Regions from separate parts of the Homo sapiens genome. Here region 1 is linked to region 2. Evidence: fine-mapped expression QTL. A gene starts in region 2. The other region holds a variant in brackets. All regions are shown on one strand. Distances are from middle to middle. Region 1 has its middle 29 kb from the start of TRIM52-AS1. Region 2 holds the start of TRIM52 (tripartite motif containing 52).

Region 1 (2,899 bases), 29 kb after region 2:
TCAGGGGGCTCACACCTCCCTAAGGGCCCAGTAATTAAACCCTTTGGGCCTGAGGGTGAGAAACTTTGTCTCAGTTCTTCCCCAAGTGATCAGCCCAGGTGTAAGGAAGGAGAAGCCAGAAAGCAGGACCCATGAGAAGGGCCCCCTCCTGGAGTTTGAGGCCCACTCCCTCCTGCCCCTGCCTCTCCTCTGTCCAGGACTCCTCCCTGCTCTGCCCCACTCCTGGGGCCATAACCATGGGGAGCTGTGGTTTTCTACAGGCCCCTGGGCACAAAGTGGGCAGGCTCACCTGGAGGCGATCAGAGTAACATGGCAGGAAGTGAGGGGGAAAGCCGCCCTGGAACTGCGCCTCTCTGCCCCCTGACGTCACTGGCGTGCACTCCTCCCTCCCCTCATTCAGGCAGTGGCATGAGTTCCATGTGAGCGCTGTCCTGCTCCCTCTGCTGCCTCTTTTTTTTCTTGGGGCTGCCATAACACTTTCCCTTCCCCAGCCCTGCCAACCTGGTGGGACATTGGGCTTCCCTCTCACAGGGTCCTGGGGACAGGCCCATCCTTTATCATACGCACAGAGAGACCGTTTTTTCCTTCAGGACCTGGGGAGCAGCCAGGTTCCATGAGTTAAATGCAGATCTGAACCAAGCTGGGATTGGGGTACACACTCTCCTCTACTGAAAAGTAGCTAGGGATTCCAACTAGGTGAGAAGGAGAGTGGGGCAGAGCCAGACCAGACAAGGACTGATCACCTGGAAAAAGCCTGCCATCAAAGGTCTTGGCAAATGCTGGGTGCAGTGGCTCACTCCTGTAATACCAGCACTTTGCGGGGCTGAGACAGGTGGACTACTTGAGGCAAGGAGTTCGAGTCCAGCCTGGGCAACATGGCAAAACCACATCTCTACTAGAAATACAAAAATTAGCTAGGCATGCTACACTCCTGTAATCCCAGCTACTCAGGAGACTGAGGCAGGAGAATCACTTGAACTGGGGAGGCAGAGGTCGAAGTGAGCCGAGATTGTGCCCCTGCACTCCAGTCTGGGAGACAGAGTGAAACTGGCCTCAAAAAAAAAAAAGAATATGGCCTTGGCAGAGAGGGGCCAGCCCAGCAGTGCCTTCCCTTGGGTTTCTCCTGGGTAGGCCTCTGCCATGAGGAGGTGCTTCCTTCTGCCTGTCCATGGCCCACAGCAATGGAATGTCTGCTTCTGGGGGTTGGGTGGGAGACTGCTGGCAGAACTGGAAACCTTCAGGTGGGGTTTTTTTGTTTTGTTTTGTTTTCGAGATGGAGCGTCGCTCTGTCACCCAGGCTGGAGTGCAGTGGTGGAATCTCAGTTCACTGCAACCTCCGCCCCCCTGGGTTCAAACAATTCTCCTGTCTCAGCCTCCTGA[G/A]TAGCTGAGATTACAGGCATGTGCCACCATGCCCGGCTAGTTTTTGTATTTTTTGTATAGATGGCATTTCACCATGTTGGCTGGGCTGGTCTCGAACTCCTGACCTCAAGTGATCCACCCACCTCGGCCTCCCAAAGTGCTGGGATTACAGGCATGAGCCACTGAGCCCAGCCCCTTCAGGGGGGTTTTGAGGCTTCACTACAATACTAGTTTCCTGTGGCTGCTGCAACAAATTACCACACACTTAGTGACTTAAAACAACCAAAATGTATTCCCTTACAAGTCTGAAGGCCAGAATTCTACAGTAAGTCCTTCTGAGTCAAGGTGGGAGCAGGGTTGGTGGCTTCTGAGGCTCTGCGGGAGAATCTGTTTCCTGGCCGTAGAGGTGGCCTGCACTCCTCAGCTTGTGCTGCCCGTCTTGAATGACTGGAGTTTCCTGCTTCTGTCACTACACCTCCCACCCTCTCCATCACCTGCTCTGCTCTTACAAGGATCCGAGTGAGTACATCAACCCCAAAAGCCAAAGACCCTTAACTTCATTATATCTGCAAAGCCCCTTTTGCCATATAAGGTCATGTTCACCAGTTCCCGGGATTAGGATATGGGCATCTGGGGGGCATCAGCCTGCTACAGCTAGGCTGCAAAACTGTTACACCCTCCTGGTGTTTCAGTGATTGGGAGAAAAAGGGTTGGCATTTTTTGCTTAGAGGTCCCTCTTAAACTTGTATCTGTAAGGTCGGGGGTCCCTCTTAACCTTGTGTTTTTGTTTTTGTTTTTTTTTGAGGTGGAGTCTTGCTCTGTCATCCAGGCTGGCAGTGGCGTGATCTTGGCTCACTGCAATGTCTGCCTCCTGGGTTCAGGTGATTCTCCTGCCTCAGCCTCCTGAGTAGCTGGGACTACAGGCGCCCGCCACCATGCCCTGCTGTTTTGTATTTTTGGTAGGGACGGGGTGGGGGTGGGGCTAGGGAGGGGGCTTTTGGCTATGTTGCCCTGAGCTCAAAGTGATCCGCCTGCCTCTGCTGCCAAAGTGCTGGGATTACAGGCCTGCACCACTGCACCCGGCTGCTGTAAAGTCTTATTTCACACAGCTGAGACATGTTTTAGGAAGTTTGCTAAAAGACCCCTGGAGACCGCCTCATTGTGACCTCCCTGTTATTGTGTTTAATTTGATTGAACTTCTCTGCCCTCCTGCTTTTCAGCTTCTCTAATAGTCTCCCATTAAACCATTCTAAGAACCACCAAAAAGGGGAAATTTTTTCTTGAAAGCAGTAAAATGATATGGACTGTTAGAATGTAAAATATATGAAATCAGTCATTATACGTTAGTGCTGCTCTGACATAGGGACGTATTATTGAGAAGCAACTTTTGCTTGATTTTCAGAGAAATGGAATCATCGTATCGCTGATCTATGTAAACAAACTGAAGAATTGTCTGAAAGAAAATATGGTATGTCTAAACTGGAAAAGTCCTGTAATCTTATGTTCATGGGCGTTTACACAATGGAGTTACTGTTCATCA
Region 2 (2,899 bases):
CTCTGGGGAAGCCAATCTGCCCCAATCTTCATGGTTTTGTGTCTCCTTTTTTACCCATATGACCATCTCTCTCCACCGTGTCTCCCTCATCAAATAAAGAGAAGTTTAGCAACTAAGTACCTGAGGAGGTGGGAAAGGAATGCTACTCATTCCTCAGCTCTCCTAGTTACCTTTCCACTCCCTTCATCCCCCCACATTCCCTCATTTCTCTCACCTGGTACTCCTGCACCACCTCCTCCAAAGGCAGCACGCTGTGCTGTTTGTGGCTCCTGGATTCTCGGCACACCACACAGATGGCCTCTTTGTCCACCTCACAGAAGAGTTTCAGGGCTTCCTGGTGTTTAAAGCACATGCCCTGATCATTACTCCGGTTTCCCCGATAAGGAGTGGGGCACATCTGGCGAATTATCTGGACCATGTTGGCCAGCTGCAAGTTGGGACGAAAGCTGCGACGTGTAAAGCTCTTTCGGCACTGGGGGCAGGTGAACTGCCCTGGAAGGGGCAAGGAAGGAGGCGGGTGGATGTCAGGATACAGCTCTTCATCTTCGTCCTCATCGTATGCTTCCAGTATTTCTTCTTCTCGGTAGACATCAATTCTCAGGTCAGGTCTCAAGCCTCCTAGGTAATAGTCCTGATCTTCCTCTTCTTCTTCTTCCTCCTCGTCCCACATATAGTCTACGTTGTCCCAATTAGTTATACCACTGTCACCGAGCCAGAGTTCATCGTCATCTTGGTCTTGGAACAACTCTTCGTCAGCATTCCCCCGATACAACACCTCTCGAATGGAGCCGTCCCATCCATCCATGGCCCCCACCGCTTCCTCGTCCTCCTCCTCCTCCCATTCATCTTCCTCCTCGTTCTGGTCCTCCTCGTCCTCCTTACTCCACAGCTGGGTCACACACCCTCGGCAGAAGTTGTGCCCACAGCTGATGGACACGGGGTCCTTGAAGTAATCCAAGCAGATGGCACACACCGCTTCCTCCTGAAGGGTCTGCATGGGGCTGGGAGTAGTGGCATAACCAGCCATCTTAATGCCCGCCGGCAGGTGTAGATACGTCAGCTTGGAGCTGAGGAGCGGGGACGCGCCTGCAGGCCTGCCTCCAAACTACTCTGGTGACCCGAGGCTGTCCTCAACCTTGCTCTTCTTCCTCGGGGCCGCAGGGGAGCTTTGACCCCCTCTCTCAGGGTGCGAACGCCCAGATCCAGACTCACAGCCTCTCTCTGGGATCGGTGGGGACAGAGCAGGCTGCAGCCCCCAGCTGCTCGGTCCTGTCACGTCTCTCGCTACCCTCAGGGTGTGCCCTACACTGCGGCGTCCGCCTCAGATGCAGCCGCTGGCTACCCTGCCCGAGGCGACGCAAAATGACGTCTCGCTCCTGCACACGCTCTGGAGAGACGCTCTAGGCCGGCGGAGGACCACGTCTCTATGGTGTGCCGGGGGCCGCGCGGGCCGGGAGTTGGGTGGGCTGGGGGACAGGCGCGCCCGCGCCGCCCGCTCCAGCTGGGCTAGTGCTGCACATTCCGGCCAGCCCCTCCTCAAGACCCCATTCCCAAGCCCCTTCTCAGCTCCCTCGGGCCGGCAGAGCGGCTCTGATCAGGTCAGCGGCGGACGCCGGGAAGAGGCCCGGCTTGGGAGAGGTGGTTTGGTGGGTTGGCTGGTTCTAGATGGTGGGGGGGTCAACACTTGAGGGGGACTGGGTCTCCGAGCCGTTGTCCAGCCTGAGCCGGAGCCCCAGGAAGGTTAGAGGGAAGGGGGATAAATCTCTCCGGAAGCCCCGCCCGGGCCGGGGCCGAGTTGGTCCGCGGCGGTGGGGAAGCCTGGGACACCACCCTGGTGCTGTCGCCCGTCCCGCCGTCCGCGCTTGGGGTGCCTTTGTGGGGATCCGGGCGCCGCACAGCTGGGAGGGCCTGCCGCCCGGGAGGCTCGGATCCGGGGCGCCCAGTGCCCCCCGCTGCCTTCCGTGAGCCGTCGGGCCCCAGCTCCACGTAGGCCTCAGACCCAGCCCTGTTTCTGCTTGCGGGGCCGCGGCTGCGCAGTATTGCGGCGTCTGCCAGCAAAGCTGCGCCCCGGTCGTGGGTCCCCTGAGGGGGCCGGGGCTCAAGTTCCCTTCGGTGCTGCCGCCTGCGTCGGGCCAGGGTTCCGAGTTCCAGCCCTGAGCTCTGTGAGCTCGGCCGGGAGGGGGCTGGATTTGGGACCACACTTCCTCACCGCCGTGGTTTAGACTTAGTTTGAGAGCGGCTGGCCCCTCCTTCCTGTCCCGGTGTCCTCCGCTGTCTGTTATGCCCTTCACTCCTCCCTGGGGAGGGAGGGCTGGGGGCGCTGTCTGGGTCTGTTTTCCACCCCAGCGGGGCCCTAGGGCAGTGTCATTTAGACTCCACTCTGTCACCTTTCCTGGAGAGGGGACCTGATCCAGGGCTGAGAGGTTTTTTTTTTTTTTTTTTTTTTTGAGATGGAGTCTGGCTGTTGCCCAGGATGCAGTGCAGTGGCGCGATCTCGGCTCACTGCAAGCTCCGCCTCCCAGGTTCACGCCACTCTCCTGCCTCAGCCTCCCGAGTAGCTGGGACTACAGGCGCCCGCCACCACGCCCGGCTAATTTTTTTTTTTTTGTATTTTTAGTAGAAACGGGGTTTCACCCTGTTAGCCAGGATGGTCTCGATTTCCTGACCTCGTGATCCGCCCACCTCGGCCTCCCAAAGTGCGGGCTGAGAGATCTTACAGTGGGAGGGGGAATCAGGCCCTGGGGAAAGGCTTCTCAGGGGTTGTCTCCTTCTGTCTTCTGTCTCTGCAGGTAGGGATAGAACCAGGTCAGGCCTGGATTTGTAGTCCCAGAGAACAGAGGATGGAGATGGGGGCTGGACGCAGCTCAGAGGGGCTGGTGCTCATGGGCTCTGTGTATGC

Evidence for each region. PIP is the estimated chance that this variant, and not a neighbour inherited with it, causes the effect.
Region 1: its variant is the best candidate, but not a certain one, in a credible set for the expression of TRIM52 in monocytes after Pam3CSK4 (Quach 2016, PIP 0.77).

What each region holds. Positions count from the first base shown.
Region 1 is chr5:181,288,912-181,291,810 of GRCh38, forward strand. No RefSeq gene overlaps it. Among named protein-coding and RNA genes, the nearest start is that of TRIM52-AS1, 29 kb to the left of the region's middle. The variant G/A (reference allele first, on the strand shown) is at 1,381.
Region 2 is chr5:181,259,787-181,262,685 of GRCh38, forward strand. It overlaps TRIM52 (tripartite motif containing 52), which reads right to left and starts at 1,357. Exons shown (of 2, transcript NM_001346048.2): 1 at 215-1,357. The coding sequence starts at 1,027. It overlaps TRIM52-AS1 (TRIM52 antisense RNA 1), which reads left to right and starts at 1,426. Exons shown (of 3, transcript NR_102762.1): 1 at 1,426-1,598. RefSeq lists enhancers at 1,058-1,107, 1,288-1,337 and silencers at 1,478-1,627, 1,738-1,987.